Linked DNA regions of Homo sapiens. The protein of the gene in region 1 purifies or fractionates together with the protein of each later gene. This does not show direct contact. Each region holds a gene or a part of one and is shown on either strand. Other genes may lie near its edges.

Evidence for each region.
Region 2: the proteins of KIAA1143 (region 1) and ECD purify together in Homo sapiens (affinity purification with mass spectrometry; 2 studies listed by BioGRID and IntAct, with this or other methods). This does not show direct contact.
Region 3: the proteins of KIAA1143 (region 1) and PAXBP1 purify together in Homo sapiens (affinity purification with mass spectrometry; 2 studies listed by BioGRID and IntAct, with this or other methods). This does not show direct contact.

The regions. Positions count from the first base shown.
Region 1 is NC_000003.12:44,751,207-44,759,618, reverse strand, and holds part of KIAA1143 (uncharacterized protein KIAA1143), read left to right. Parts: intron 1-5,250; coding exon 5,251-5,395; intron 5,396-6,011; coding exon of another isoform or gene 6,012-6,066; coding exon 6,067-6,278; 3' UTR 6,279-8,412.
Region 2 is NC_000010.11:73,132,145-73,137,397, reverse strand, and holds the end of ECD (protein ecdysoneless homolog), read left to right. Parts: intron 1-479; coding exon 480-694; intron 695-2,584; coding exon 2,585-2,815; 3' UTR 2,816-3,730; downstream 3,731-5,253. UniProt on the Homo sapiens protein: Regulator of p53/TP53 stability and function. Inhibits MDM2-mediated degradation of p53/TP53 possibly by cooperating in part with TXNIP. May be involved transcriptional regulation. In vitro has intrinsic transactivation activity enhanced by EP300.
Region 3 is NC_000021.9:32,746,733-32,755,144, forward strand, and holds part of PAXBP1 (PAX3- and PAX7-binding protein 1), read right to left. Parts: exon of another isoform or gene 5,384-8,412; intron 4,621-5,383; exon of another isoform or gene 4,522-4,620; intron 4,487-4,521; coding exon 4,387-4,486; intron 4,301-4,386; coding exon 4,185-4,300; intron 1,967-4,184; coding exon 1,767-1,966; intron 1,517-1,766; coding exon of another isoform or gene 1,481-1,516; exon of another isoform or gene 1-1,480. UniProt on the Homo sapiens protein: Adapter protein linking the transcription factors PAX3 and PAX7 to the histone methylation machinery and involved in myogenesis.

The DNA.
Region 1 (8,412 bases):
TTAGGACTTTCATAGCTAGAGAGAAGTCAGTGCCTGGCTTCATATTTTCAAAGGACAGGCTAACTCTCTCATTAGGAGCTAATGCAGCTGGTGACTTTTAAGTTGAAGCTAATACTTACCATTCCAAAAATCCTAGGGTCCGTAAGAATTATGCTAAATCTACTCTGCCTGTGCTCTAGAAATGGAAAAACAAAACCTTGATGACAGCACATCTCTTTATAATATGGTTTACTGAATTATTTTTAGCCCACTGTTGAGACCTACTGCTCAGAAAAAAAAAGATTCTTTCAATATATTATTGCTCATGGACAATACACTTGGTCACCCAAGAACTCTGATGGAGATCTACAAGGAGATTAACGTGGGGTTTTCATGCCTGCTAACACAACATCCATTCTGCAGCCCATGGATCAAGGAGTAATTTCTATTTTCAGTCTTATTATTTAAGAAATAACAGCCAGGCGCAATGGCTCACACTTGTAATCCCAGCACTTTGGGAAGTCAAGGCAGGTGGATTGCTTGAGCCCAGGAGTTCAAGACCAGCCTGGCCAACATGGTGAGACCCCATCTCTACAAAAAATACAAAATTTAGCCCAGTGTGGTGGCATGCACCTGTGGTCCCAGCTACTTGGGAGGCTGAGGTGGGAGGATTCCCTGACCCCAGGTAGGTTGAGGCTGCAGTCAGCCATGATTGCACCACTGCACTCGAGCCTGGGTAACAGAGCCAGACCCTGTCTCAAAAAAAAAAAAAAAAGTCAAAACCATTTGTAAGGCTACAGCTGCCATGGATAGTGATTCCTCTGATGCATCTGGATATTGTAAATTGAAAACTTTATGGAAAGGCTTCACCATTCTAAACACGTTAAGAACATCCATGATTCATGGGAAGAGGGCAAAATATCAACATTAACAGGAATTTGGAAGAGGTTGATTCCAACCTTCATGGATGACTTCGAGAGATTCAGGCCTTCAGTGGAGGAAGTAATTGCAGGTGTGGTAGAACAAGCAAAAGAACTAGAATTAGAAGTAGAGCCTGAAAATGTGACTAAGTTGTTGCAGTCTCATAAAAATTGAACAGATGAGTTGCTTCTTATTGATGAGCAAAAAAAGTGGTTTATTGAGATGGAATCTACTTCTGGTGAAGATGCTGTGAACATTGTTGAAATGTCAATAAAGGATTTAGAATAAACTTACTTGGTAAAGCAGCAGCAGGTTTAAGAGGACTGATTCCAATTTTGAAAGGAGTTCAGCTGTGGGTAAAATGCTATGAAACAGCATTGCAGCATCACAAAAGAGAAATCTTTTGTGAAAGGAAGACTCAATGCAGCAAACTTCATCGTCTTATTTTTAAAAATTGCCACAGCCACCCCGCCTTTCAGCAACCACCACCCTCATCAGTCAACATCCATCAGCATCAAGGGCAGACCCTTCACTGGCAAAAAGATTAGGACTCACTGAAGGCTCAGATGATTTTTAATGTTTTTAGCAATAAAGTATTTTTAAATTAAGGTAGGTACATCTTCCAGACTCCTGTTAATGTTGATATTTTGCCTCCTCCCATGAATCGTGTACTTAATGGGATCTAGATTTTTTTAGACATAATGATATTGCATACTTAATACTAACTGTAGTTAGTGTATAGTGTGAACATAACTTTTATGTGAACTGGGAAACCAGAAAATTTGTGTGACAATTTATTTTGATACTTGCTTTGTTGTGGTGGTCTGGAACCAAATCTGCGGTATCTTCAAGGTATGCCAGTAGAATGAGTATGTGCTAACCCCATGCACTGTCGCAGGCTCTGAAAGGACGAAGAGATGGATCTCCAAAATGCCATGTTCTTTAACACTTCCTGCCCTATTTTCACAAGTTACCATCTCTCCGAAACCCTTCAAAGCTCTCCAAACAGTTACTCTTTCTGTTTTTCTCTTTACCTTATCCATATCTTATCTATAACATTCATTTTATATTGCAACTACTTGCTTTCCTGTTTATCTTCACCACTAGATTGAACTCTTTAAGTTAGTATCTTAATCCTTCCGTATTTTCCCAGCACCTAGCACAGTGCCTGGCACGAAGTAGTGGGTAACAGTTGTATTTGTTGGTGACTGTGCTGTTATCAGGTTAGACTTCGTGGAGGAGGGATATTTAGATAGACTCTCGAGCATGGTTAGGTCAGCAGGTAGAGATGAAGAGAATGGCATGGGTAAAGGTGTAGAGATTTGAGAGTCATGGACTGTATGTAGAAGTGTTAGAGGGGCTAGTGGAGGTGAGGCCATGTGGACTATTTAGTAAGCAACAGGGAGCCATTTTTTTCTTAGAGGTAACACAGGGAATGACTGATCCCCATGACTAAAAATAGGGATGATGACAAAGAGGGTAAGGTTTGAGAAAAGGGACATAGATTGAGCGATGAGGAGAAGATGAGACCCAGCTTTACCTTGCTTGAGGTCCTGGTGATGACCCTGTATGCACAGTTGACAGCTTGAAGGTTACAGCTTGGAATGCTATCTTAAGAGAACTTCGGGAATCCTTTCCAAGTAATATCAGTGATTTTCGCTTATTTATGTACTCAAGGGAATTTCCCTTAGAGAAGTACGCCATGTTTCAGTGTGAGAACCACTTCATTTTTAATCAGTTTGGCAATATACAGTATTCCCCCATTATGTTCCAAGACCCCCAGTGGATAATACTGAATTCTATATATACTATGTTTTTTCCCATACATATATACCTATGATGAAGTTTACTATATAAATTAGGAATATCAGCAGATTAGTAACTAATAATAGAACAATCATAACAATATACTCTAGTAAAAGTTGTGTGAATTTGCTTGTTTGCTTGCTGTCTCTAAATATTTTATTGTACTGTACTCACCCTTCTTTCATACTACAGTTGACCACAGGTAACTGAAATTGTGGAACATGAAATTGAGGATAAGGAGGGGACTACTGCAGTCAGGATTTTAGTCATCTATTAACAAAAAGAAATGAGTTTCATGGGAAATCATTCCATAATTAAGCTAAATCATCCTATTCACTTTTATTTTTTTTGAGGCGGAGTCTTTCTCTGTTGCTTAGGCTGAAATGCAGTGACTCGATCTCAGCTCACTGCAACCTCCACCTTTTGGGTTCAAGCAATTCTCCTGCCTCAGCCACCCAAGTAGGTGGGATTACAGGTGCCCACCACCACACCGAGGTAATTTCTGTATTTTTAGTAGAGACGGGGGGTTTCACCATGTTTGCCAGGCTAGTCTTGAACTGCTGACCTCAAGTGATCTGCCTGCCTAGGCCTCCCAGAGTGCTGGGATTACAGGCATGAGCCACTGCGCCTGGCCCTATTCACTTTCTTGAGAGTTAATTCAGAAATGTCTCTGAACAGTCATCAGTGGCTACTGCCACTGTCCTTAGACTATTTCTCTTGTTTTCCAGGCAGTCACATTTAAAAAGAAAAAAAGAGAAGAGAGTCAGAATTAATTATTCTCAATTTAACAAACAAAAGGAATGATTTTATTTCACTTTCCCATATTTTTGGCTAAAAATACTTACTACCTATTTGTGGTCATTTATTGGAGACTTTCAGAGAAAAATTGGCAGAAACTGATGAATAATCAGTGAACTAACATAGATACCATTAAAGAGAATGTACTTGTGCAGTGATAGAGCAGACTTGAGAACTTGAGTTATAGTTAAAATGGCACAAGCAACTTGCCAGGGCTTCATGTAGTTCATCATTTTCCATTCTGTTGGTCATTCATGAGTAGATCAACAAATATTTCTGGAAGTCCCTGCTGTTTTCCAGGCTTTGTGCCTCTCCAGAAGGCACTTGCCCAGTGGAAACCAGCAGAAAAACATTGGTACCACAGTGCAATACATGCTACCTATGAGCTATGCACAGTGTAAGAAACAAGAGAAGGTGAGATTTAGGTAAGCACTTCTAGAGGCTCTAAATCTGGAAGGCAGCTTGAGTAGGAGTTGCTCAGGGGCTGTGGGGCTTAATAAGCCGTAGGAATTTGTTCAGAGACAGGGGAAGCAAAGGAGCTAATATATTTATAAATCTCCAAGTACTCAAACCTTGCCATGCCAGAGTCTAGATGCCATGAGAGAGTGGTACAGGATAAAGCTGTGGTTATGGGCTGAGGCTAATTCTTGCAGGGCTTTGTCGCCTTGTTTGGGAGACCAGGAAGTCTCTATGAGAAGTGGAGTAATGAGTGATTGTGTTTGAATAACATATGAAAACATATTTTGGTATGCATACCTTTCAACCCAACAGTTCCACCTCTAGTGAACTGTTAACATTAAAAGTTCTTGCATACAAGTTCCCAAAAGTGAGCAAAAATGGGTGCATGAGGTTTTTTCATAGTAGAAAAAAATCTGGAAACGAGCAAAATTTGTATTTACAAGATGCTGGTCAAATAAATCTTGAGGTGACCATATATGTAATTAAATGCAAGGCAGTGATTTTTTAAAAATCAGATAATTCTATATCTTAAAGTACTGTACAAAGATATTTTTTGAGTTAAGTTGTGGGAGTGGGGCTCTTACGGTGTCTCACATTTCAAAAATCTGAATCAACTGGCAAAATATTACCATCTGTTACACATATACAGGGAGTACATGGTTTCTGTTATGTTATTCTCTGTACTTTATGTTTGAGAAATTTCATAAATAGGGAAAAAGCAAGTCACAGGAATAAGTACAGTGTTGTTGGTATACAAAAAGTTTTATGTACCTACATAGTTGTATAGACGTGGAAAATAGCTGATAGAATATCCACCAAACTGAAGCTATTAGGAGGGGGAAAAGATGAGCAGAGGTGAGAGAGAGAGTACGTTTTACTTGCTGCTTTCTGTACTTTGATGGTGTTTATTTCTTGTCTAACTCAGAGAAGAGACAGGCAAAAAGTGCTGATGAGGAGCAAACAACTGACATGGCACAGTGCTGCCCTGAGTAGGCTAGGAGTGACAGCAGTACCCAAAGCAGAGGGTCCCTCACACTAGTAACTACAAGCTGGGTCCTGCTGAGATGGAAATGAATCCCACCGGACAGGCACTCCAGGCTGAATGGCAGTTAAACCTGTTCCCTTGTGTGGCAAGCTAAGTCTCTTTGGAGTTACCTTAAAATTCATTGCCCTTATTTACTCAATAAAGATACCCTTCTCATAAATAATTACAGTTTCTCTTAGAGGCAGTGGTTCTGTTTGTCTCAAGATCAGTGATCTACACATTGTATTTGTGTTTTTCCCTAGAGAATTCAGCCTCAGCCCCCAGATGAAGATGGGGATCACAGTGACAAAGAAGATGAACAGCCTCAAGTGGTGGTTTTAAAAAAGGGAGACCTGTCAGTTGAAGAAGTCATGAAAATTAAAGCAGAAATAAAGGCTGCCAAAGCAGGTAGGTCTAAAAGTAATCTGGTTTTTCTAACAATTTAAGGAGCCCAGGGTATGAAATTGTTTATTTTATTTAGTAGTGTGGTGTGTTTCAAGGTGGCAGTTCCGGGTTCAAGCCTTAGCTTTGACACTTACCAGATGTGTAACCTTGAGCAAGTTATTACACCTCTCAGCCTCGATTTCCTCATCAGTAAAATGGAAATAATTGTACCTATTGGGTTGTTACCAGGATTAAGTGTGAATTTAAGTAAAAGCATCCTATTTTTTTTTTTTAAATAGATGGTTAGACTTATAAACCAGTCAAAAAAGGTGTATTTCATTACTGCCTGAAGTTTGGTATGATATGTAGTATATTTTTCATTATTTCTGAACATTTACTACATTGCTTTAGGGGAAAATGCTGTAGTTCCAAACAGTCACTTTTCAAACTACTTAAAAATACAACCTGATTGTAATTGGGAACTGACAATATTATAGAATACTTTAGCATGTGAGTTTTTATTAAGTAACTGCATGCCTTGAGGGCAATATAGCTAGAAACAATGGAGAAGACCAGACTGAATCAGATTCAGGGATATCCTTAAATACAATATGAGATTTTCTTATTATTTGCTTCTAAGGTAAAGGCAAAATAATGAGGAGAAGAAAGTTCTTAAAAATTCTGTTTTTGCTCAGATGAAGAACCAACTCCAGCCGATGGAAGAATCATATATCGAAAACCAGTCAAGCATCCCTCAGATGAAAAATATTCAGGTTTAACAGCAAGCTCAAAAAAGAAGAAGCCAAATGAAGATGAAGTAAATCAGGACTCGGTCAAAAAGAACTCACAAAAACAAATTAAAAATAGTAGCCTCCTTTCTTTTGACAACGAAGATGAAAATGAGTAAGTGTAAATATTTTGAATTTAGTCTACTTTGAAAGTATATGGAGTGTTCATTAAAATCACATTTTTTCCTATTATAAAGATACTACAAGTTCTTTATAGAAAGTTTAGGAAATAGAGAAAAAAATTTAATAAACTACATCTATTCATCAATACCCCTCTGACTTAAAATGCCAACTCTATAGAAATTAGCTAGTATTAACATTTTGTTATTTCCCTTGTGTGGTTGTATATATATGTAAATTATATTTTTAAGCAAAATACATTTTTTGTGTGTAAACAAAATTTTATAAATACAACTGTATTGCAAATGTTCTTTGTCCTGCTTCTCACTTGACATTGCATTACGAGTATTCTTCCAGGTCAGTAAATTTCAAAAACCTGACATTAATAGCTACAGATAATTTCATAAACATCTCATTGTATCTTTTTCATTAGCAATAGCTCCACTTTGGGTGGGGGAGATGATAATGTGCCTTGTTAAAAATACCTCCCCAACTCCTGCTAAGGGTGGCCATGAGACTCAGCTCTGGCAAGTTAAGAAATACAGGTGGAATTCTGCTTGATAAAGCTGCTGGGTTTTTTGTTACAAAAGGACAGACTTGGCAAACATGAGCCTTTGCTCTTATCTTTTCATCCTACTTGGAGTGCAGAGATAAAACCTGAGTACCAGAGCCACTTTTAGGCATAAGGAAGGCAGCCATGTGCTTTGGGTCATGTTAGTAAAAAGACTCAGAGCTTGGCTCCTTGCTGACATGCCTGGAGGAGCTGCTACACCAGCTTGGATTGCTGACCTCTGACTTCTTGGTAGTGAGAAGAATAAACACTGTGCTTAATTAGGCCTTGGTCAGGTTTCTTTTATATGCAGCCAAATGCAGTCCTAAGTAATACAATAAATAACTGGTCAAACTGTTACTGGTGGAGGGTGTCCAGGTTCTTGGCATTTTGGACAAATAATTGAACAAAACGCACAAAGCAATGAATATCCTCTAGAGGTTTGCCATTGGTTACTTGGCGTACACCCTGTGTAAATGAAGTAGTGGCCCGTGACCTGTCTGATTGGTGCAGAAAGTGACCAATCAGAGGCTGAAGTGAAGTTACAAAGTTATACTCCTGTGTAAATGAGGACTTGGCCTATGACCAGTCTGATTGGTTGCAGGAGGGGACCAATCAGAGGCACTTTCATTTTTCATCTGCAATGCAGAAAAGGCAAGGGGATTGCAAAGGGAGTAGCCTCTGATCCTTTTGTTACTTAGGTATGGAGAGGTGGGGTTTTCCTTTTGATTCAGTTCTAGGAAGTCAATGTGAATCAGCCTTAGGTTCCCTGTCTCCAGACCCTATTCTCCTGCCTCATTTTCCCCCTGAGAGACGTGATCCTCGTAAATCTTTATGGGAGGCTGAGAGACTGAGGGTCTTTCTTCTGTAACTGCTTCATGCTAACTTGGGACACAGTCCCTACCTATTGGAGATCACGTAACTCTCACCCTGCTTTGTCTAGGGGAGACAGGGTAGCTTCTTGATGGCCGGTGGTGTCTTCTCCTGAAACTGGCTAGAAATCTTGTCACATGATCATCTAACTTGGTGGTCTCTAGGCAAAAGGAAATGGATTTGGTTAAAAGATTTAACAGATATGGTCCAAAAACCAAGGCAAATATAATCATTAATAATGGGCTGGCCAAGGGAGGGAGCCATGAAACCCAACTTAGTGCCCTTTAGGTGCCCCAGCTGTTGTCATATTTTAGAGGCCCAGTCAGCTAGTTTTCAGGTGGTGTCCCTTACTAATCCTGATTGGTTGACATCAAAACAGCATTCTTCTTCTAGGAAAATACATAAGCCACCTGTTTCAGCAGTTAGGAGATCTAGTCCCCTTCGATTTTGCAAAGCGACCACTGCCAAGGAGCCTATCCGAATTTGTAAGGTGACAATACTTTGAGCAATGTTATCCAGGCTTTCCATAAAATCCTTGGACAAGCGTTGGTAATAGGATAGGGAAGTTGCAATCCCGCTAACTCCCATTCCTACCTCTGCTGTTATTCCTAGCCGTTGTGTCTGGTGGTTGCAGTTAAAGGTATAATGAGGGATTGGTTGTTGGGAGCTATATTAATTTAGGGACATACAATATTTCTGTCTCCAGTCTA
Region 2 (5,253 bases), on another chromosome or scaffold:
TACAAATCAGTAATAAAAAGATAACTCAAAAAATAATTATAATATGTATATATGTACAGAACTGCAGAGAGAAAGATTGGGATACCCGGAAACTGCTAAAAGATGCTTACCTCTGGGGAGAGAGTGAGATTGGAGACAATACTTGTATGGCTTGAATGTTTACATCAAAATGTATTCATTTATTAGGTATTTTTAAAAATTTTTTAAGAAAAATATTTTAATTAATTGAATTCACTTTTTTTTAAGCTAAATCTTTTGATTCAGCTTGTACGCTTTTCCACAACATTAAATGCACACATATCTGCCAGCATTACCATTTGTAGAAGGGATTTTTGTGAAGTAGACTGACTGTGTGTATTAGTCTTTTTCTGTGGGTAACATTCTAATTATTTTGAGATGTGTAGTAACTAAATAATAATAATAATAATAATAATAATAATAATTACTAAGTGGCTCTTTCTTTCTTGGGATCTGTGTAGGGCCAAGGCCTAATGAGTCAGATTCTGATGATCTGGATGATGAAGACTTTGAATGTTTAGATAGTGATGATGACTTGGACTTTGAAACACACGAACCTGGCGAAGAGGCTTCCCTGAAAGGAACACTTGATAATCTCAAGTCATACATGGCCCAGATGGACCAGGAACTAGCACACACCTGCATCAGCAAAAGTTTCACCACTAGGAACCAAGTGGTATGTGTGTTTTTAACCTCTTTCTCTTTCTGAGTCTAGTATGTCAGATAGCTAAAACCATATTTTATCATAGTTTTTCTTTTTTTGGTGTGTGAGATTTGAAATAAATAAGAATGTTAATTGTTTTCCTAACTCTGGTAGGATAAAGGATCATAGACTTAATTTTCCAAAACATAAGCTTCATTATATTACTTATTCTACGTTATCTATCAGGATTTAAAATAAAAAGTCATATAATATGCTCAAATTAGAATGCGATTGTACACTACTACTTCTTAAATACATTTTTTTTCAAAAGTAGTTTAAAAAAACTACAGCTTAAATGGATTTTAAAAAAGAGAGGGCACATGTTCTCAAGACCTTTTGAGACTATGCCTTGGGCCACAGTGGATTAAAACAAAATAACATAAGTAAATAAACAGGATCTTAAACATTCAAATAACTTTCCAGTTTTAACAGTTTATTTTGTATTTTTCCCTAATTTAGAGCCAAATTTAGGATTCACCTTCCGTTTATGTTTTCATCCTAGTTTTTAATGCCACCACTGTCTAATCCTAAACAGAGGTATTATGGAAAGAGCAAGAACCCTGGAGTCTTATGGGTTAGGGTTTGAAGTCTAGCTCAGCTGTCCACTGTGAATGTATCTATAAACCAGTAATCCTCATATCATAAAATTAACATGAGAACCAAATTAGACAGCAGTAAAACCTACAATAGGCCTTTAATTAATGTTAATTCTCCTTGCTTTGATCATCTAAACCACTTTTAAAACTATAGTCACTTCCAGAATTGTCAAAATCTAGTAGAAACCATACATTAGATTTATCTAAAGCAGTATTTCTTAAATTTTAATGCGAATATAAACCAAAAGATCATGTTACAACATAGATTCTGATTAAGTAGGCCTGGGATGAAGCTTGAGATTTTCCTTTTTTTTATTATTATTTTGTTTTATTTTATTATTATTATTATTATTTTATTTGAGATGGAAGTCTCCCTCTGTCACCCAGGCTGGAGTACAGTGGCACGATCTTGGCTCACTGCACCCTCTGCCTCCTGGGTTTAAGCAATTCTCCTGCCTCAGCCTCCCAAGTAGCTGGGACTACAGGTGCGCACCACCGTGCCTGGCTAATTTTTGTATATTTAGTAGAGACAGGGTTTCACCATGTTGGCCAGGCTAGTCTCTGGAGCTCCTGACCTCAAGTGATCCACCCACCTCAGCCTCCCAAAGTGCTGGGATTACAGGCATGAGCGACCACTCCCAGCTGAGTTTTTCCATTTCTAATAAGCCCCAAGCGATGGAGACTCTGCTGCTCCATGGACAATGCTTTGGGTAGCAAGGACATAAAAGTCTATCGAGCTGTAATCTTTCAAATCCTTTCCCCAGCTTGTGGAATCAGAGGCCCAACTAACAATTTAGAATCTTTGTGGTTGGAACCACAAAGCCTTGTGTTTTTACTTTTAAGCTTTTTCACTGGGGGGAAAGAAAGGAACACTCGCTTCTTTCATTTTGAAGAAAATTTACATTATTATTTCATTTAATATTCACTTTTATGTTTGTTTCTTTTAAGACTCTTAGACAAGTTATAAATGTACCTTCTTAATTCTATTAGCCCTTGAGCTATTTCAAAATAGACATGCAATTTATTCGATTTGCAGGAATCTTTCCTGGAGAGAAATGTGTTATAACCTTTAGAACCAAGTTTTATTATGTGTGCTAGGCCATATAACTTGTAGACTTCATTTTCAGTTTATATCACCAAGGATAAGAAGTTTCCTTTTTAATTTGGAATGCAAATTTACATTGTGGCTTAGTTATCTTTTTATTGTAACCACCATGCAACCTAATGATACATTAGCCCATAATTTTCTTTTCCCTCTATGAATAAGGAACCTGTATCCCAGACTACCGATAACAATTCAGATGAGGAAGATTCTGGTACGGGAGAATCTGTTATGGCACCAGTAGATGTAGACCTGAACCTGGTTTCAAATATATTGGAATCCTATAGCTCCCAAGCTGGACTGGCAGGACCTGCTTCCAATCTTTTACAAAGCATGGGAGTGCAGCTGCCTGACAACACCGATCACAGACCAACAAGTAAGCCAACAAAAAATTAACCAGCACATTTAGCTTCTCTTTTTTCTTTTTAAATAAATATTGAATATGATTCTGTTCATTTCTAGTTTAGATTACTCATTTAGTAAAAATGTTTCTTCATTACAAGTTTTACAGATTGACTTCTCCATGAGCCCCAAATGTGGCCCTCTTGGCACAAGTCTTTGTGATCTCAGCTGTGGGTTATACACAGGTTTTGAACTCGGCAGGGTAGAATCTAGCCCCTAGACAACCTTGAGATGAAATTCACACACTTCATGCTAAAGACATACCCTACCACAATATACCCTTGGAGTAATTCTAAATATTTAAATTTCTCCCTTACTGCTATTCATCCTCAGATCAAAATTTCAAGTTGACAAATTTGGATTTGAAAACTCATTCACTTTTTCAATTTTTTTAATGAGGCATAACATGCATATGGTTAAGTGCACAAATCTTAAGTGTACAGTCAGTGAATTTTTGCATGTATGTATGTACCTGAAGCAAGATATAGAACTTATTTACTTGTAAATAACAGCTATATTGATATGTCACATACCAAAAAATTTACCCTTTAAATTATACAATTCAGTGGTTTTTAGTATATTTACAAAATTGTGCAACCATCCCTACCATCTAATTCTAGAATATTAGAAACCCCATACTCACTAATAGTCTCTCATTCCCTTCTACTCCCAGCCCCTAGAAACCACTAGTCTACTTTCTGTCTCTATGGATTTGCCTATTTTGGATATTTCATACCTGATACTGTACTTAATTGTTTTAATTAATTAATTGGTTTGATATTTAATATAACTGATATATCTTTTGCTAAGATGAAATGTTTATTTCTTAAAATGATGCTCATATTCCTCCTAAAATAAATCAAGTATTATCTATATATCATAAAATTCACCATTAAAAGCAAAAAAAAAGTCTTCTTTACAGACAGCTCCATATACTGACCATGTTTTTATAATCTAGGTCTCTGGATTCTTCTTTATTATTGTATGCAGCAGAGAGATGCCTTTACTATATCTTACCCTATCCAAGTAAAAACAATGGAAATAGTTTCATACTGTTCCCTCTCCAGTGACCAAGGGAGGAATTAGGAGAATGGTGTAGTAGAGTTCTCATCTGAGAACTTACTATCACGAACTAATAAAAACTGAATATGGCCGGGCATGGTGGTGGGCGCCTATAATCCCAGCTACTTGGGAGGCTGAGGCAGGAGAATAGCTTGAACCCGGGAGCCGGAGGTTGCAGTGAGCCAAGATTGCGCCATTGCGCTCCAGCCTGAGCGACAAGAGCGAAACTCCGTCTCAAAAATAAATAAATAAAAACTAAATATACCATATCCCACTCCAATCCTTTGTCTTCCTAGTGTTCACTGAAATGAACTAAGGAAGAGGATAAGTGTTACACATTGACTAAAGTAACACATCAGATGATATTGTGCAACATTTTAACATTTTAAATAATAATTATTTTAAATATATTTTTATTGTTTGTTTTGAAGCTACATTTCTCATGTTAAAAATGGGGCCAGAATGCCGTCCCAGCTCAACTGTGAGAAAAAGGTTTCCCCCCATCGCACTTGTGGTACATTAGGTTTATCTTCATTGAGGATTAAATATTGGGTAGAGAAAGGGTGATAGGCAAAAATATAAATGAAATTTTTTTTTATTCTGGTTGCCACGGCTGACTGACTTTCAGCCAGGCTCACAAGATTTTACCTGTTTTTCTATTCTGCATCATGGACCCAGATGGGTTCTATTTATCCTTAGCACCTTCATAATTTATTGCCCATGTATATATTCTCAGGTCAGGTAGGTCCTGTACCAAAGTTTCTTTTATTTATCTGCCATTTTCAGTATTCCAGGCCTGCTCTCTTCTGCCTCAGCTTTCAGATATCCTTGGGGTTCTACAGCAAAGCTCTTTTCCCACTCACTACTGAGAAGCAAAGTTCAATGTTGCAGCTCCTGCTGTTAGCCACTCTCATCTTTTCTTTTCCAAAAACACATTAATCAAAAAACAAACAGTTACTCCATGGTAAGTTTGGGAAACTCATAACCAGGAATTCCGCACACTCCCCTTTCTATCAGTATTTTCAGATTGGGGATGTGTACACATGCGCTCACAAACACACCCACATAGAGATAGAAAAGATTGGGAGATGGTAATACACATGGACCCTGAACTGTTTTCTTCTAACTGCAAGATATGAAGAAATCTCAGGACCTCTCTTTTGTGAGTGCTTTTCCCTTCTGCATGCTGGGTTCAGCCCAGGTAAAGGCAAGCTGCCAATCTAACAAGACAATCAAGTCCCATCACATATTATCCCTCAACATTTCCTGATGAAGGCACTTTGATTTCCCCAAAGCAATGATGGTTTGCTGGCAGTGGAGAGAGCAATGACCTTTTGAGATCAAAAGGAAATTCAGTGCTTTAACTTTTC
Region 3 (8,412 bases), on another chromosome or scaffold:
GGGTATATACCTACAGAAATATAAATCATTCTATTATAAAGCTACATGCATATGTATGTTCACTGCAGCACTATTCACAATAGCAAAGACATGGAATCAACCCAAATGCCCATCAATTATAGACTGGATAAAGAAAATGTTATACATATACACCATGGAATACTATGCAGCCATAAAAAGGAACGAGGTCATGTCCTTTGCAGGGACATGGATGGAGCTAGAAGCCATTATCCTCAGCAAACTAACGCAGGAACAGAAACCCAAGCACCACATGTTCTCGCAAGTGGGAGCTGAACAATGAGAATATATGGACACATACTGGGGAAAAACACACACTGAGGCCTGTTGGGGGGTGGGGGTGGGGACTTGGGGGAGGGAGAGCAACAACAGCTACTGGATGCTAGGCTTCCTACCAAGGTGATGGGTTGATCTGTGCTGTAAACCACCATGTCACATGTTTACCTATGTAACAAATCTGCACATGTACCCTGGAACTTAAAAGCCAAAGAAAATAAAAAAGAACTGGACAAAATACAATGGACCATAGGCAGCACAAGACTATGACCCTTTAAAGAAAGGAATCAAATGAGGTGAGATGCTAGTTCAGGACAGCAGAGCAGTTTTGCTGAGTGGAGGAGACAGAGGGTGGAGCTCAGGAAGGCTGACACAGCTGGAAACTGTGGGGCAGAGGAGTGGGGGACACAGAAAAATAACTCCAAAATACAGTCTTGGGCCTTTGCTATCTACCAAGACACTCATGCACACAGCAAAACTTCAGAAGGTCTGGCCAAGAGCACACAGGAAATAGGAGCTGTGAGCTGAATGCTTCTCAGAGCTCACATTTTTTTCAGTTGTGTTTCCATGGCATCAACCTCAGCTCCCTTTTCCTTATAGTTCACAAATTCAACCTAGCCAATCTCAACCATGTCTACAGCTTCACCCACGTTGGTAACTTCTAAAACCACATTGTAAACATCACCACTAGACCTCCAGAGTCAATTCTAGCCCCCTCCCTTATATGACAGGCCAATAGGTCCTCTTGATTCCACCTCCTTATCTTTTTTTTTTTTTCTTGTGGCAGGTCTTGTTCTATCACCCAGGCTGCAGTGCAGTGGCACAATCATAGCTCATTACAGCCTTGATCTCCCGGGCTCAAGCAATCCTGCCTCAGCCCCCGAAGTAGCTAGGAATATGAGCACATGCCACCACAGCTAATTTTTTTTTTTTTTTTTTAAGTAGAGACAAGGTCTTGCTATGTTGCCCAGGCTGGTCTTGAACTCCTGAGCTCAAACAATCCTCCCGCCTTGGCCTCCCAAACTGTTGGGATTACAAGCATGAGCCACCATGCCTGGCCTATCAATTTTTCTCACCATGACAACTGACTTGGGTCATGTCCTCATTTCACACCTGCCTCATTGTGCTTTCCCATCTGGTTCTGAGTTCCTCTAGGATCAAAGGACCAAGTTCTTACTATTCATGTTCATATCCCAGTGTTACTGCATATAATTTCAGCTGGCTGAAAAAAGGATTATATGTAAACTGAAAAAACAACAACAACAACAAAAAAAACACATAGCTCTGCTGGGAAGACATGAAACTTAAAAGGAAAGATCATAAGATTATAACCAGATACAATCTATCAATTATAGCCTATGCCCTATCACCCCTGCAAAATATTTTGCTTAAGCTTACATCTCTAGCTTTGAGATTAAAATTACCCAGATATCAAATTATAACACTTTCTAATAGTGACAGAAGCCACTCACCTCAAGAGGAGTCCAAGTGAGGAGCTGAAGTCGTATGAGGGGGTTGAATAATTTTGGCAAACAAAGGCCAATGTAAGCATCTTTGTAGGATGTGTAGTATTTTGAACGCCATGCTTCAAACTGTGATTTAATACAGTCAATTGAATAGAAACTTTCAAGGACATCTTCAAAAACTTTGCCGGATTCTTTTGAAATTCGATCTAAAAACAACAAAACCCCACAGAGAACCATACATTAGTATGAAGTAGGAAAAAAACAGTCCAATATTTTCAGTGTTTTCTTTGTAGCTTCAGTATCAGAAGATACGCTCATTAACAAAGGGCCAATTGTTAGTCACAATTTAGAAGAAAAAAATAAATTGAAGTTTCAATTTGTCTATTATGTAAACTAAAGTGCAGCCAGTCCTTGTTTTGCAGTTCCAGTATATACAATTTTTCTACCACAGTTTGGCTAAATAAAACCTGTTCCCAAACAAGATGGTTCAAATTTCAGTTACTACGGTGTATTAGCCATAAGTAATTGTGCCGCTAGCTTTTTAGTTCACAGATCACTGCACAGATTAACAGCTGTGCATCATAATCAGTCACTAATCACATTGCTTCATTCAAACTCTGTTGGTGATTATAATAACTGACATAGCCAACTATCAGCTGAATGGATGCTAGGAACTTTAAGTGAAAAGTTATTTGCGAATAAGATTTTTTTTTTTTTTTTGAGACAGATTCTCACTCTGTCACCCAGGCTGGAGTGAAGTGGTGCGATCTCAGCTCACTGCAATCTCTGCCTCCCAGGTTCAAGTGATTCTCCTGCCTCAGCCTCCTGAGTAGCTGGGATTACAGGTATGCGCCACCATGCCCAACTAATTTTTGTATTTTTAGTAGAGATGGAGTTTCATCATGTGAGCCAGGCTGGTCTCGAATTCCTGACTTCAAGTGGTCCGCTGCCTCGGCCTCCCAAAGTGCTGGGATTACAGGTGTGAGCCACTGTGCCCAACCAAGAATAAGATACTCTTATGATGTCCCAGATTACTTGGGAAAAGGAAATATTTACAATGGAGAGATAAAGTTCTGAGAACCTTTACTGCAAGATCAATCTTAACATTGCTAATAGTGGGGACAGTCTAACATTTGTCATGTGCTTTTAAGCAGTATGAAACAGCATCCTGTATAAATTATTCTTGGGGAAGAAAAAAAAAAAGTTTAACTTAAATCTAATTAAGCCTTCAGACCTAAATTCCAGTTTACAAGAAATGGATCAAAGAACAAGTTAAACAATGCTATGAGGAAACATACAGACCAGTCTAGAATATAGGACAGTCTATAAGAGAAGTGGCCTGGTCTCTTCAAAAATTTAAAGAACAATAGGGGTGGGTGTGTGAATGTGTACTTAGGGTTACTCATTTATTCCAGATTTAAAAATGTCATAACCAAATGCAGAGCATGAACCTTAGGTGGATCCTGGTTTCAAAAACCACAAAATAACCCATAAAAATAGTTCCTAAAAAGGGTTTTTCCAGGATGCCATTGAGAAAAATTATATATGGACATGATATTAAGAAATCTGTTTTCTTATTGTGCTAAAAAAAGAAATACTTAATCAGAATAGGCATCTAACAAAAAGAAAAAAGATAATAATACTGTGATTATACAGAAAAATATACTCATTTAGAGGAAACACACTCTGAAATTTTGGGGAGTGAAGAGCCATGAGGTCTGTAAGTTACTTTCAAATGGTTCAGCAAACACACACATCTCCTTGTATAAAGAGCCAGGCAAACTTGGTGAAATCATAAGCATTGTTATCTGAGTGATAGGTATGTGGATGATCACTGTGCTAGTCTTTCAAATTTTGTTTAGAAATGTTCACTGTAAAAAAAGTAAGAGAAAGAAGCTTCTCCAACTAAGTTCCAAATGGTGTGCAATTGATATAATTCCAAACAATTATAGCCAATGGTGGGAAATGAAGACTTTTATTTGGGATCCTTCTGAAAATGCCTGGCACATAATAGTACTAACCATTCCTCTAAGGTGAGATTACTTATGACTCCCCAAATCAAGAGTTTCCTTCAGGGCTGAGTGCTCTACTGCCAAGCTTTACCTTTCCAGACCAGACAGGCTGCAATGAGAGCTGCCCTCAAGGACCTGACACATTTCCAGTCACTTAAAATTCTACCATTTGGAACAGTAACAACATTTATTATGCAAATACTAAGTACACCCTATGAGAAGATGTTACCCCTATTTTTGAGAATTCATCATGATATTCACTAATAAAAAGGCATGCAAATTTCTGCAATTAAAAAAGAAGTGTCTGGTTCTAATGCAGAGACCATGAAGATTCAAATCATTTCATGGTAAAAACCATACCCAAGTAGAAACTAAACTGATGATGAGTCTTATTTCCAAATAAATGTCTAACCTTTTTCCAGATTGAAATTAGTAATATCTGTAGAAGTTTCTTCATCATCACTGGAAAGGCCTTCAAGGTGATCTGCCATCTTACCGGTTTGTTCTCTGGCTTGTCTACGACGAGTCCTAAATAATAAACATCAAGTTCCCAAACTAGATAACAGAGACTCCTCCCTTCCCAAACAAGCCAGAGCAAGGGTTTTGAGAATTACCTCCTGGCCTCCCGCTCTGCAATGCGACGTTTTGCATGCTCTTGATACAGTGCCCGATCGCGTCCAAAGGAGTCAAGATTTGGTGCCATCAGAGCTTTGTCTGCAAAACAACAACAGTTAAAATTAAAAGCCATCTTTCAACAATCTTGAGGAAAGAGTTTGCACAGAATAAGCCATTACGACAGACTGCTTGCTAATCTCAACGGCAAGATTCTGCAATAACTGGTAAACCAGGTAGGTTTTTGGTTTAGAACAAATTTCATTATTATTCTGCGTTCCCATTTTAAAAAGTAGAAAAATTAAAGAAGTGATTTCTTTTTAAGAGTTCAACAACCCTACAAATATGTAATTGGGCTTACTCACTATTTTTATGTCTAAGTAACAGGACAGCTATCAGGAATAGCTATCATGATGACCAAATAAATTAAAACTCTAAATTACCTGTGCAAAGGGAAAAATATTACATTTTTAAGGAGGAAGAACTTCAGCATCACATTGAATGACAGCAGGAAAACATAGGAAGACATAAGAAAACAGCTTTGTTGCAAGAGTTTAATAAATTTATTGTAATTTTGCTTTGTAGAAATTTGTTTTCTATCACTATTTTTAGAATAAGGCATCTGAAAACCGCATCTGAGCAGGACCAACTTCCGCCTTCTCAAATGCTAATCTTTCTCTTTCACAGCATAGTTTTATTTTATTTTTTTGGTCTTCGTATTTTCCATTTCTCAAAAAACATTCTAGGGTAATTTCCTAGCTTTAGCTTCCAATCCTATTTAAATTTATATTTCAGTTATCATATTTTTAGTTTTCAAGAGATAGTTCTTGTTCTTACAATATTCCTCTTCTACAGCATTCTATATACTCCTGTTGAGTAGGATACCTTCTATTATCTCCCTGGGGCTCCCAACTGTTTGAAAGTAATCTGTTTACAGAAAACTTGCATACTTGTACCAGCACTGTCTGTTTCCTCAGTCCCTTTGGTTCTGCTGCTCAGGTTGGTCCTTATGATCATCGTTAACTGCCTGTTCATATAGAAGAGCAAGACTGGAAGCTGTGTGTGTGGGCAGGAGCTGTCTAACAGAGGTGTCTCCGTCGGATCACTAGGTACTGAGCCAGTTCTTTTGTTGGGGATCCCCAGATTTTAGTGTTTCAGGGTCTTTATTTTGGACCTACTCTCTTTAATCAAAAAAGACTCCCCTAATCTCTTGCCTAGGTAAAAGAAGGGGTGGGGGAAACATCTGTCCACTATACTTCCCTCATTTCTACGTTTTAGTTCCACACTATGAAGATATGACAGTAAGGGGAGGCAAACAACCCAAACGACTGGGTGAGAGGGGAGGGAGGTGAGCACATGCAAGATGAAAGACATCCAAGTTAAGACTTGCATATTTTTTTACTTATCAATTGATATTTACTGATATCAACAGAGATGTGTCACCAAAATCAGCAACAGGAAAAACAAAACCAAAATTTAGCTCTTACTTCAGAATATCCTAATTATCAGACCTTACTATCTATCTATCTATTTATTTATTGAGACGGAGTCTTGCTCTTGTCGCCCAGAATGGAGTGCAATGGCACAACCTCAGTTCACTGCAACCTCCGCCGCCCAGGTTCAAGCGATTCTCCCGCCTCAGCCTCCTCCTGAGTAGCTGGGATTACAGGCACCCGCCACCAGCTAATTTTTGTATTTTTAGAGACGGGGTTTTGCCATGTTGGCCAAGCTGGTCTCAAACTCCGCCTCGGCCTCTCAAAGTGCTGGGATTACAGGCGAGAGCCACCGTGCCTGACCAGACCCTACTATTTTTAAAAGTTGACTTTTTTTTTTACTGAGTTTTTCATTCATATTTCAAAATAGCTCTGAAATTAGGAAGGAGGTATGTTCCTGAGTGCATCAATTACAATGAAAAATTACTAAACCAGAAAGATTTCCCAGCCCTAGATGTGAGTTCACTACACACCCCAGATGAATTAGCTAAAATATCCCAAACTATAAAAATAATTCCAGACTCAAGAGTTTTCCTTCAAGAAATATTTTTAAAAATATCATTATACGGCTGGGCACGGTGGCTCACGCCTGTAATCCCAGCACTTTGGGAGGCTGAGGCTGGTGGATCACGAGGTCAGGAGTTCAAGACCAGCCTGACCAACATGGTGAAACCCCGTCTCTACTAAAAAAAATACAAAAATCAGCCAGGCGTAGCTGAGGCAGGAGAATTGCTTGAACCCGGGAGGCGGAGGTGGCGGTGAGCCGAGATTGCGCCATTGCACTCCAGCCTGGGCAACAAAGCGAGACTCCGTCTCAAAAAAAAAAAAAAAAAAAAAACATTATACTTAAAACATCACTGCATGTATAGGTTTTGTAAAATGTGCACTGGAGGAGACAGGTGAGTCTAACATGACTCAAGTGATAGCCTCCTCCATTTCTGTAAGAATTATACACAGTAATTGCAGATAAGTGCTTATAAATCTAAACAGAAGAATTTCAGACTATTCTTTACTTCTTTAAAAAACAGATCAGAAAATGAATTGATTCTCCAGCATCCCATGTCATTTTCCTCAAATCTTTGGCAATTAATGTATACTCCCTCTAGGACTGTATTTTTCACTTTCCCAGTATCTTTTAATTTCTTTCCAACTTTCAATCAAACTAATATAAATAATTCAACTCTTCTTTCAAATCCCCTCTAAGTAAATAGCTCCATATTCTCAAGAACAAATTACAGATGGGAAAAGGTATTTGATGAAATGTACAGCTCACACAAACCATCTAACTTAAAAGAAAATTACCTCCCTTTGTAGTATAATGGTTACCTGTAATCTGCCCCAGAAATCTGGTTCTGTCTGGATCAAAAGTGATCTGGGAGGGATGCATGAGTCATGTAGGTGGCTAATGTCAATAATCCAATTTAAAATTCAGTGGCAAAAACAGAAGGTCATAGCCATTTATAGGGCTCATAGCTGAGACTACCTCAGCTATGAGGGCCGTATTACCATCTGTTTATGCCTCTCCAAAACCCATCTGACATATAGGAGGATGCTTTTTCAGGGATCCTATGTCTCTCTGACTTAGAGACCATGTATAGCAAAGCATTGCTTTCTGAAAGAATAACATTAGAGCTATTTGCATTTGATCACCTGGAGAGATTGTTTAACATGCAAATTTCTGGATGCTGAAGACCTAGTAAGAATCACTGGGGATAGAACCAGAAAATCTGTATGTTAAACGAGTATCAGGTAATTGTGATGCACACTTCCATTTGAGAAATGCTGACAAAGGGAACAAAGAAATGACAAAAGAAACCACAAGGAATTCACACTAGGAAAATTCCTATTAGCGCACTCAAGAATATGGAGGGTAACGGAAAAAAAGGAACTAAACGGTTTAAAACATCCAGTTAAAGGACCTCCGCTGAACTATTTAACAAGAGGTTTCTAATTCTGGTTTTCCATAACACATGTCATAATGATGGAAGTACAAATTCAATTTCTATCCATTTGTATACAAAATTTCAAGAATTGTAAGCACCAACTGACTTACTAAAAAACACAGTACATAAAGCAAACTAGAGAAACATTTAAAAAGAAATTACAAAAAGTTTGCTTTATCCAAAGGATGAAGCTCAAAACTCTCCTATCTTGGAGTTGTGTCATTTGTTAAGTTATAGCTTCCCTCCCCCTACCCACAACATGTCCCAGTCCCTAAACTCAAACTCTTTCACTGTGATCAACAAAAGCATTTATTTGTATTGGTGTTTTGAATGAAAATGGGGGAAAAAACCAATTAGGGCCAAACAGATAATGGTTTTAACATAAAATACGGATAATGTCTTTTCTATACTCTAAAGGAGAATGAAAAAATATGCCCAAAGAATAAGAAGACTGACAGAATCTTAGCACGTTTTTGAGCTCCTTTGTGAAGCTCTATTTTCTTAAACACAATTCAAGTACATGCTGTTACCATTTTTAGATCTACCTGACACAACAGCAAGGAAATTGTTTCTTTAAAAAAAAAAAAAAAAG